3 linked regions of the Homo sapiens genome follow. The protein of the gene in region 3 purifies or fractionates together with the protein of the main gene of each other region. This does not show direct contact. Each region holds a gene or a part of one and is shown on either strand. Other genes may lie near its edges.

The links.
Region 1: the proteins of NUP155 (region 3) and TNRC6B purify together in Homo sapiens (affinity purification with mass spectrometry; 2 studies listed by BioGRID). This does not show direct contact.
Region 2: the proteins of NUP155 (region 3) and NUP205 purify together in Homo sapiens (affinity purification with mass spectrometry; 2 studies listed by BioGRID and IntAct, with this or other methods). This does not show direct contact.

Annotation. Positions count from the first base shown.
Region 1 is NC_000022.11:40,327,896-40,331,649, forward strand, and holds part of TNRC6B (trinucleotide repeat-containing gene 6B protein), read left to right. Parts: 3' UTR 1-3,754.
Region 2 is NC_000007.14:135,616,844-135,620,597, reverse strand, and holds part of NUP205 (nuclear pore complex protein Nup205), read right to left. Parts: intron 3,509-3,754; coding exon 3,351-3,508; intron 2,997-3,350; coding exon 2,916-2,996; intron 2,187-2,915; coding exon 1,995-2,186; intron 1,176-1,994; coding exon 908-1,175; intron 809-907; coding exon 710-808; intron 1-709. UniProt on the Homo sapiens protein: Plays a role in the nuclear pore complex (NPC) assembly and/or maintenance. May anchor NUP62 and other nucleoporins, but not NUP153 and TPR, to the NPC.
Region 3 is NC_000005.10:37,301,423-37,305,176, reverse strand, and holds part of NUP155 (nuclear pore complex protein Nup155), read left to right. Parts: coding exon 1-120; intron 121-333; coding exon 334-438; intron 439-1,762; coding exon 1,763-1,917; intron 1,918-2,268; coding exon 2,269-2,398; intron 2,399-3,626; coding exon 3,627-3,740; intron 3,741-3,754.

The sequences.
Region 1 (3,754 bases), on a different chromosome or scaffold from region 3:
AGAGGTGTGTACATCTCCTGAACATCACAAACTTGGTTTCTACCTACCACACGAGTAGCCAAAAGAAAAGAAGCACTAATAGAGAAAGGGGTGTCTCACACCAGACAGAGGACCTCTGCTGTCAATTAGATCCAGTATCATGACCTAACTTTAAGTGTGGAAAAGAGTTCAGATCTCTGAGACACTGTGAAGAAATGGATGGCTCATGTAACATCTCTGATCCCTCAGTCCCCAACCCTGGACGTGTTTCATTTACAACATTCATAGGAGTTAACTTAGCAGTGTTGCAAGTTAAGGTTCCAAACCAAATTATTTAATCAGTGTCCCCCCAATAAATCACTTATCCATTTATTGCTAGTTAGTTTTATTTATAGCAACTTGATTTCCTATGAGTATGGCTCCTGTTGTAAGAATTTTCCCACCTCTTCTGACATGAATGTAGCATAAGTTAGCAATCGGTTCTTCCAAACTCCTGTGGGTTGAATATGGTATAGAAGGTATGCAAGAGGAAAAAGAAAGGAAAAGATAAAACTCCTGCCTGAGAATTTGGAAGCACCTTTATTAACACATATATCTCGCAGAAACTAGAAGCTCATAGGCTGTTAACTTTTTGCAACTATTCACTCATTTTTACCACTTTTTTTTTTGGGTGAGGGGGTGATTTTTGTAAGGTTAACAGCCAGATTCCATTTTGACCTCAGATGCTGTGTACTTTTTAATTTCATTTTTTATATTCTGCCATCTTGACTCTTCTCTAAAACAGAATGAAAATGTCTGCATGCTGAGCAAAATGCTTACGCCAAGCCTGTTTTTCTCTGCAGAGTAAACAGGATGTTTTCAGCAGACTTGGCTCTAATAGCCATCTCTAAGATTAGGGAACAATTGAGTCTTTATGTAGAAAAGATCCATTTTTTCCCCATCCTCAGAGTTAAAATTCAACATTTAAAGCTTTATCGGTTATTGTTTTAGATTTGAGATTTTTGTTTTTAAGTATCTATAAGATCTTTAGAAGTGAGATAAATTTTTCGCTGGTTAAAAAAAATCAAACTTTCCTCTGCAGTGTTTTTGCCAAGTTTTGTCACACTTCATGTGTATGCATTAACTATACTTCTTAGTGTTACTGCAAAAAAAAAAAACAAAAACAAAACAAAAAAAAGCCTTGTTCTTTAATTGTGTTTTTCCTCCTGTGAGTGGACAACTAAAGCCGCGTGATGATGCGGATGAAAATATTCTGGTCTGTGTGTATACAATGAATTGTCAGTCTTCAGACCTCATGGTCGTTAAGAAAATAGGGAACTCACAAACCCTGCTGCGCACTACATTTACTTCTTTATCTGCAAGTACAGGGAGTCCATACAGTCAAGAAACACACAGATACACATAATGCTATTGAGGACATTGTCATTCTGTAAGAAAACAGAATATTATCTAGATTTCCAGAGTTAGTGCAGACCCTGTGATAACAGTCTGTGGGTTTGTGGCCAGCGCCAAAGGTGTGTGTATTTTCAGAAATGGTCCCTATTTGTCAGTGATAGTGTTTTTTTTTTCTTAAGTTTGACAAAGGGGGTGGTAATATCACATTCTTTAGATTTGAAATAATTATCAGCTCCAAGAATCTGTGAACATAGTAATAACAATAAAAATTCAACATCGACCCTCCCTAACCTGCTCACCATACCTCCCCACCCCATGCCTCTGAAGAAAGAGGCCATGAACCTACGAGGTGGTAAAGGGGGACACAGGTCAGGGAGTGGAGAGCTACTCCTCCAGCAGCTCAGCACCCACACTGCCCGCATGCGTGTGGCCACCGGGACCAGATCCCGAGTGATTGTGGCATACCCCTAATATTTGAGTAGTTTTTAAGCTGTCAGTCTCTTGTCATAACCTCCTACCGCCACCCAAAAAAGTAACGAAAGTTGCAGTAACTGCCAGTGTTTGCCTCACCAAATTTAAATCGTTCCCTTTTCAGTTAGCTATATACCTGAATTTGTTTTTAACAAGAAACTGTACATGGCCAGGAAAAATGGTACTACCTTGGCCAAAGGGTCTTTGCAAAAAGCTCAGTCTTCAGTTCTTCACTGTGACAAATGCTTATCTTGTTCATGGGAGGGGAAAGATCAGATAAATAGGCAAGAAGTACTCTGTTTTAAATAAAGAATAAATAGTGTCCGTTTAAAGCACTTTGTGCCTCAACTTCATTTTTAAACTGTAAATCATTGCTTTGGAAATAAATTCCCAATTATAATTGACCCATATCTAGCCAATATCAACAAGTTGGGATGGTTTTTGTTTTTTTCTTTTTTTTCAAAAAGGGAAATTCCTCTTTACTGCTCACAGTAAGCTGCAAAAGAAAGTTGTCAAGGTGGCTTATGATGCTGTTGTAGCAGAGCTGTGAAAGGAAGTGCTTTGCTTTCTCTCCCGCCTTCCGGAATCTGGCGTTCCTTCCCCTTCGGCTACTGAAAGGTGTGTACAACTCCCAGAGGGGTGGCTGTAAAAGTTGACTGGAGGCAAAGTGGAGTGGCCTTATTGCCAGGACTAGCCCTACAGAAGAGCTTTACAGAGAGGAGGACAGTACATCCTATGTGTGTTCGCCAAAAATGGGAAAGGTGGGTATTTAGGCAAAACAAAATAAAAACCTTTGGAACCCTTTAAGAAGTTACATACCTTTTAAAGGTAGTATAGTTTCTCACCAAGTGATGCATTTTAGCATGACACTTCTTGCCAGAAATTTTGGGATAAGTTGGAATAAATGTGTTTAAAACATCATCCACCGCCCTTTTTAAATTTTGTCTAAGGAATTACTTAAGTATAGTATTTCTGAATGTGCCTTTGTGAGTACAGAGACCGTCCGTTCTAGGAAGAAGCTATCCGTTGGATACAAACAAACAGACGGTCAGCTTTAGTCATTAGGGAAGTCAAAGTTCCTCCTGGAAGTCCCAGGAGCAGCTGTTGAGATTTCATTAGCATCAATATTGCACAGTGTAGAGTTGAGTGGAAGAGATTCTGGGACTTGGGAGAGGAGACAGGGGAAGGTACCCAGGCGACGCAGACCCACGTTAGTCCAAGAGCGCAGGTTTACACATCTGCATTCCCTAGTTTTCTCCGTCTGTATGTTTGTGCTCATGTGGCTTTGGCTGTTTTGTTTTTTGTTTTTCTGTAAGCACTGGAGAATTGGAATATGGTGATACTTGTGACACATTCATGCATGTAAACAAGGCATTTTCCAGCTTCTGCCGTGTGCAGAGCGGGCAGCACGCTTTTACCCTTTGAGTCTGTGTCCTGAGGCGGCCATTACATTCCCACATGGGCGTCACATCACGTTGCTGTTGATGCAAACAGGGTATTACACACAAGGAAAAGGGGTTTTGAAGAGTTAAGATTGAAGTGTTTGAGAAAGAAAAGAGAAAAATCTGAAATCATATTTTATTTCTTCAGAGCTATTATAGTTGAACACAGAAATCTGCAGTGTCTTTATTTGTTTTTATGTTTTAAACAATTTCACCTCTTCTCCCCACTCCTATCTTCTAAAGAAATATCAAGCAAATGCTAAGGGCCATTTCCATGATTCCTCAGAGCTCCCCCAAAGAGGAGAACAGTCCCTCCCACTCGATTCCTTCAGCTTCATTCAGGAAGACACAGGGAGGAGAGATGCTGCTTCTGCGCTTTGCTCTCATTCCTCTCTCATGGCCTTGAAATGTATTATTATGCAAATGTGAATTTTGATACTGAATTTAAGAAGAGGTTGTTGGATTTT
Region 2 (3,754 bases), on a different chromosome or scaffold from region 3:
TGAATAAGGAAAATGGCAGATAAGTGTTTCATCCATATCATGGAATAACAAAGACTTTTGTGTTTCTTTTTGAGACAGAGTTTCACTCTTGTTGCCCAGGCTGGAGGGCAGTGGCGCAATCTGGGAAACCTCTGCCTCCTGGGTTCAAGCGATTCTCCTGCTTCAGCCTCCTGAGTAGCTGGGATTACAGATGCCTGCCACCATGGCTGCTAATTTTCTGATTTTTAGTAGAGATGGGGTTTCACCATATTGGCCAAGCTGGTCTCGAACTCCTGACCTCAGGTGATCCACAGGCCTCGGCCTCCCAAAGTGCTAGGATTACAGGCGTGAGCCACCATGCCAGGCCGAGATATTTTAAAAGAATCAACTAGATAAGTACTCTGATGTAGCACAAAGGAAAGAAAGACATTGGACCATTCTATGTAGAGCACACTGTTCAGTCGGACTTGAGGCAAGTGAGGGAGTTACAGAAGTATATAAAGCTAAAGTATTATTTGAAGGTTATCTTAAAAGTAGTACTCATGTACTACTTCATAATTCTTAAAAACTAAACATTCTTCCTCAACTTTTGAGTAAATGCTTTAAAAATGACACTAACACTCATTTTTTACAGTTGTGATTAGTCAAAAGATGGAGAAGTGATTTTTTTTTTCAATTTAAAGTAACCATCTCCCAATCCAGAAAAGATTAGGAATTGATCTCATTCTACCTGCTTCTAAGGTGTCTGGTTCATCAGGTCTCTGGGCAATCTGTAAGTAATAAAGCAGAGAGCCATACAAGTGAGTCCTCACTCGTTGGAATCCACCACCTAGGGAGATTAGGAAGATGTCAAATGAAAATCTTTTCTCAATTAAAGTTAAAACAAATACAAAAGATAGAATTTATAGACAATTTAAATGAAAAAAACCTGTCTTCAAAATGAAGTCTAACAGTTTCTTCAATATGATGTAAAGTGAAGAATCTCCAATAGAAGCAAAACCCACTAATGGGTTCTCTTCAGGAGGAGGTGAGGTGAAGCAACTATCAAGCATAAAAGCGTAATGGGCCTCTGCTGGTCCCAAGACTGATGTTTCCTTCTGTTCAGTGAGGACGGCCTGGCTTAGGTGAGCAGTCAGTGTGAACACTGCCCCGGCGACCACAGGCATTAACTCTTGCGCAGCTTCATCATCCAGTATCTTAAAGGACAAGGGCAAATTAGAGTGAGAATCCTGCTTTCAGCTATAATCATTAACAAATTTCATAGCTTTTTTTTTTTGAAGACAGGGTCTCGCTCTGTCACCGAGGCTGGAGTGCAGTAGCATAATCTCAGCTCACTTCAGCCTTGACCTCCTGGGCTCAGGAGGTCTTCCCACCTCAGCCTCCCGCAACTGTGACTACAGGTGCACACCATCATGCTCGTAGAGATGGAATCTCACTATGTTGCCCAGGTTGGTCTCAAACTCCTGGGCTCCAGTGATCCTCCCACCTTGGCCTCTCAAAGTTCTGGGATTGCAGGCATGAATCACTGCACACAGCCCATTAACAAGTTTTATATACATTTAGCTTGTCAACTATGGTAACAATATAAGAATGGAATACAGAAATTAGTCAAGAAAGAAAGAAAGAAAGAAAGGAATCTAATATATACAGAGAAATTTAAACATGATGCTAGGTAATGGGTGTTCTTAACCAGAAGGGATTCCTATCAGAATTCCCTAGGGAGGTTTTCTTTTTGAAATTCACATAAATGGTCTCACCACTACATTCAGTAGGTCTGGGGTGGGCTCTGTCCATGTGAATTTTTACAAAGCTCCCGAGATAACTCAGACACACACTCTGGTTGAGAGCCACTACTGTACAGAATTAATCCCTTTCTCAAGGAAAGTCTTAACGTTGGTATTGCACAATTCTATTTTACTCCCAATCGAAAATGGAAAACAATTAGGATGCCAAAATATATTTGTTTAAATGATACATTCGTTCAGCAGTATAAAGTATTTTAGGAAGTACGTCACCTTATCATGCACATCTTGTAAAATATCACGAATAATCAGTTGTCGATCCTCTGCCTGAATGAGGTCCTGGGGACAAGCTGTCAGTATAATTTCTACTAGTTGCCTCCACGACTCCAGAGCATGACGTTTTGCATGAAGACACTGCAGCAATTTATTTCTTCCTACCACATACTGAAGTACAGTGCTGATTTCCTAAAGCCACAGGAATTGAATCACAAGGTTAAACAGGCAAATAAGATCAGTTATCTGTCAGTTACTCAGAAAATATTTATTTGGAAACCTACTACATGCATGCCAGGAAGCAGGTATCTTTTCATATTATTTCAGTAGCCAGGGCTATAAAAAATATTAACATATAAGGTGTGTATGTGTGTGTATGTGCATGAAAGGTAGGGGACAGAAGTGGCATAGATAAATATGTATTTTTTGACACCATCTTCTTTCTCCTTGTACCTGTCTACTTATACTTGCTTACTCTAGAGCACTAGAATTATCTAAACTCCAAGTTCAATGGCATGTTTCTCTGACATCTCTTTTATTTCTTTGCCTCTTGCTTTGGCCTGGCCGGCTGTATCTCCATTCATGTGGTTCTTCCCACCTGACCTCTTATCTGTAACTTTCCACTTGTGATGACAAATGACCCTCCTCTCTCACTGATGGGGACCAAGTGAAGTCTAATACGAAATATGGTCAGGTTGCAAATCCTTAACTAGCCTAGCAGAAAAGGTGTTATTTATTTTGGCATACCAGATAGTTCAGTTTATAAAAGTTATAAAATCAAAAGTGAAAGACTCCCTAAATGTTTAATTTTTAGGCAGCTTACTAATTAGCAAACTACATGTCAATATACTATTTTAGTCTTTTCACCAGCAACCTAAGTAGTTAGAAGTTTGAAACGAACACATACTCAATAGAGCTTACCTCCATTAGTAGAGGTCTCTGTCCTATGGCTGCCATACCCTGAAGGGCATTTACTTCAGCTACAAGAACCCTATGAAGAAGCTGGATAATTAGGAAAAGAAAGAAAAATAAGACATTTCAGACACTGGTAGAACAGTAACACCTAGCAATTACCATAAACTGCCCTAAAGGGAAAGGTGTCAGATACCTTTATATATAATCTAACAGGAGCACTGTCCAATTTCCAGACCAAAATATTAAGTATCCCTTTTCAAGAAGTTAGGTGATATATTAAGTTTTATTTCAGGGATATTTTACAAAAATCACAGTCCTTCCTATAAACTACTAAACCAATGTCTCTATCAGAAAGAAAACCTATATGGTTCTATTTGTTTCTGATGACTTAAAGTCTGAGCCACTTGACACTGCAGATATGTACTTTAAAGCAATCCTCACCTTGACATTGCAGACTGTCTGTCCCCGTAAATTCTTGTGTTCACAGTTAGCAATAACTTGTTCAATCTGGGCCCGATCAAAAAAATCCAACTGCAAAGGCTCAGGGATCTCCTGACTGAAGTCAATCGAGTCAAGAATATTTAGAATTTTTCGACGTACTAGAAATAATAAAAAGTAATTTGATTTTACTTGGGACATTGAAAAGAAAGGCAAGCCATCATATTCAGTTGATTTTCAAAGACAGTGCTATTTTCAGAAAGAGCATAAAATAGTCAAGAAACTGAAAACTGTATTGGAATCTAAATTTGATTTTATTTCTGATACATCCATTAACAAAAATATTTTCTTTCCTTTTGTATAATCCTATTATAAAAAAAATTTTCAGGTGGCAATTAATCCTTTAT
Region 3 (3,754 bases):
CAAGAACTGGTAAATCAAAGTAAGGCCGCTCCTCAGTCTCCCAGTGTACCCAAAAAACCTGGTCCTCCAGTGTTGTCATCTGATCCAAATATGCTGAGTAATGAAGAAGCAGGACATCATGTAAGGGACATAGTATATTTTCATTCTGAGAATACACTGTTTAGAAGTTCTCCATGGTAATGGTAGCACAGTCATCTTGGGGAAAGGTGGTAGTTCTTAGAAGTTATCATGTAAGGATTCTTGATTTCTTACTGGAGTTTATAGGGCTAAAGGGTTGTGATGCCCAGAAACAGAGCCTTTAACTGCTAATTTTTACTATTTTCTTTATTTTAGTTTGAACAAATGCTTAAATTGTCACAGCGATCCAAGGATGAGCTCTTTAGTATTGCCCTTTATAATTGGCTAATACAAGTCGACCTTGCAGATAAGCTGCTACAGGTAAATCTTTTTTTATTGCAGTTGTGTTAATTATTCTTAAGGAGCATAACTCAATGATTTAAGCACATATATAGATGTAAAAAATTCAGTTTCTCATCCCATGCCTGCTATTAGATGTTAGTATAAAGCTGAGTAATGCAGTATCTTTTCCTAAGGGGCAAAGTAGGCTACTGCTCCAATTTTCTTGTTAATTCGAAGCTGATTGGGATAGTTTGTATTGCGGGGTAGAAATCACTGGATTATGAATATGAGTCCTGTAGGTCATCTTATCTTAACTCTGCTGTTAAGTCACTGTGACTTCAGATATGTCCTTTTACCTACCCTAAGTTTCAGTGTTCCTCAATCTGTTTAATGAATACATAGCATTTGATAATTTCAATAATGCCTTTGAGCTCAATGTCTAGGAATCAATAGCTGTGTTATCAAAGTTTATTTAAAAATTTGTAATTTTATAGTAAATTTCCCTTTTTTTTTTTTTTTTTTTTTTTTGAGATGGAGTCTGGCTCTGTTGCCCAGGCTGGAGTGCAGTGGCATGATCTCAGCTCACTGCAACCTCCGCCTCCCGGGTTCCAGCAATCCTCCTGCTTCAGCCTCCCAAGTAGCTGGGATTACAGGCACCCGCCACCACGCACAGCTAATTTTTATATCTTTTTAGTAGAGACGGGGTTTTACCATGTTGGCCAGGCTGGTCTCAAACTCCTGAGCTCAGGTGATCTGCCCACCTCAGCTTCCCGAAGTGCTGGGATTACAGGCATGAACCACTGTGCCCGGCCAAATTTCCTTTTCTTTTTTGAGGCAGGGTCTCAATCTGTAGCTTAGGCTGAAGTGCAGTGCAATGGCACGATAATGGCTCACTGTAGCCTTGACCTCCCTAGGCTCAGGTGATCCTCACACCTAACCCTCCTGAGTAACTAGAACTATAGGCCCGCACCACCACACCCAGCTAATTTTTTTGTAGAGACGAGGTTTTGCCATATATTGCCCAGGCTGGTCTCAAACTCCTGAGCTCACATGATCTGCCCACCTCGGCCTCCCAAAGTGCGAGGATTACAGACATGAGTCGCCATGCCCAGCCTACTAAATTATTGTTATCAACCTAATAGAATTGTTTTGGAAACTCTTATGCTAACTGTGGTAAAACAAAAATTGTTTATAATAAGAAAATTTGCCCTCTCTTTTATCTGTTAGTATTGGATTATAATTTTGCTTGTTTTCATAAAACAAGGCAAAGTTGTAGTTGACTTAAAAATACTATATTTTCCTTATCAGGAACATTATCTGTAGGTGGTTAGAAAATTTTTCTGAATAACTATATAATTTCTAGGTTGCTTCTCCATTTCTGGAGCCACATCTAGTCCGAATGGCCAAAGTTGATCAAAACAGAGTTCGTTATATGGATTTACTCTGGCGGTATTACGAGAAGAACAGAAGTTTCAGTAATGCTGCTCGTGTACTGTCCAGACTGGCTGACATGCATAGGTATGGCATAATATTCTTATTGTGAAGAATGATTCAAAACTGAGCTATATGTACTTACATTCAGTTTTCTTTAATTTTAGAAGAATCTAAGTTTTAATATACTGACCTAAATTTTTTAAATAGGATGTTACTTTTTAGTCATAAATGTATTTCTTTATGTGTTGTCTAAAATTGTGGATCTCTCTTATGAGAAATCTAAAATAGATTTTTTTTTAAATCTAATGATTTTTTTTCAAGTTTCAGATGGCTTTTTATGTGTGTTTGGTATGAAACAGTACATACTAATTGACGTATTTGTATCATCAATCCTTAAGAAATTGTGTAACTAAAAATAAGCGTTTTCCCTTCTAGCACAGAAATTTCACTTCAGCAGCGACTAGAGTACATTGCTCGAGCCATTCTTAGTGCCAAAAGTTCCACTGCCATTTCATCAATAGCTGCCGATGGTGAATTTCTTCATGAATTAGAAGAAAAAATGGAGGTAAGTGCTAAAGATCTTAAGCTGTGTCCACATTGAGTACTAGCCACATAGTTATTCCACATTCCATTCTTCCCTTGGTAAGTAATAGGTCTGAGAAGTCATTATTATTCTAGTTGCTTTTGTCTGTTTATATTTATTTTTATGTTTAGATATAAATCTTAAAGATTTTTAAGGATGCACTTGGGTCATAAAAACATTGCTATAATTTAGAAGTTTTCTCTTTGGCACTTCGAAAGGTTTTTCCCAGCTGGGTGCAGTGGCTCACGCCTGTAATCCCAGCACTTTGGGAGGCCGAGGCAGCCAGATCATGAGGTCAGAAGTTCGAGACCAGCCTGGCCAATATGGCGAAACCTTGTCTCTACTTAAAAAAATACAAGAATTAGCCGGGGGTGGTGGCACACACCTGTAGTCCCAGCTACTTGGGAGACTGAGGCAGGAGAATTGCTTGAACCCAGGAAGCGGAGGTTGCAGTGAGCTGAGATTGCACCACTGCATTCCAGCCTGGGAGACAGACTGAGACTCTGTCTCAAAAAATAATAATAATAAAAAATAAATGTTTTTCCCAACTGTTTCAACAGCAAGTGGATTACATCACATTCACCATTTATTTTGGAAGCAAATAAGTAGATGTATGAAGTAGAGTAGGCTAAAATTCCCTAACTAAGAGAATCAAAAACATACCATCGTCCAAATACAAAAGTTTGTTTCTTATTCACAAAAATCCAAGGTGAGTCTTCCTGATTGGCAGCTGGCTTTCCTCCGTGTGGTTGATTTAGGAACCCAAGTTCTATTTTCTGGCACTACCATTCCCTAGGGCCTCTGCTTTATCTTCAGCAGAGGGTGGAAGGAAAAGAAAGAACACATTCACTGTCTTAAAAACTATAGCCCTGACATGACACACTACTTCTACTCACATTCCTTTGAAGAGAACTTGGTTGTATGGCCATACCTCCCCTACAGAGGAGGCTGAGCTGTATAGTCTAACCATTTGGCTACAGTCTTGGAAGGTATAAGTATTGGGCAGCAAGGAGTCTGCCACAGTATACTTCCTGTGAAATCTATTATGTTTAGTTGATGTCTGTTATGATAATATTAGCCTATTATGATAGAAATCTTCATTTATACATTATTTTAGCAAACTTAAAGTCAGATAGTAGGATCCGTTCTTTCAAACGTATGTTGATTTATCATAAATAAATTAAGACATCCTGTTTTCTGCCCAAACTAGGTTGCTAGGATCCAACTTCAGATACAGGAGACACTACAAAGGCAGTATTCCCATCATTCTTCTGTACAGGATGCAGTTTCTCAGCTGGATTCTGAGCTGATGGACATAACTAAGGTAATAAAAAAGCA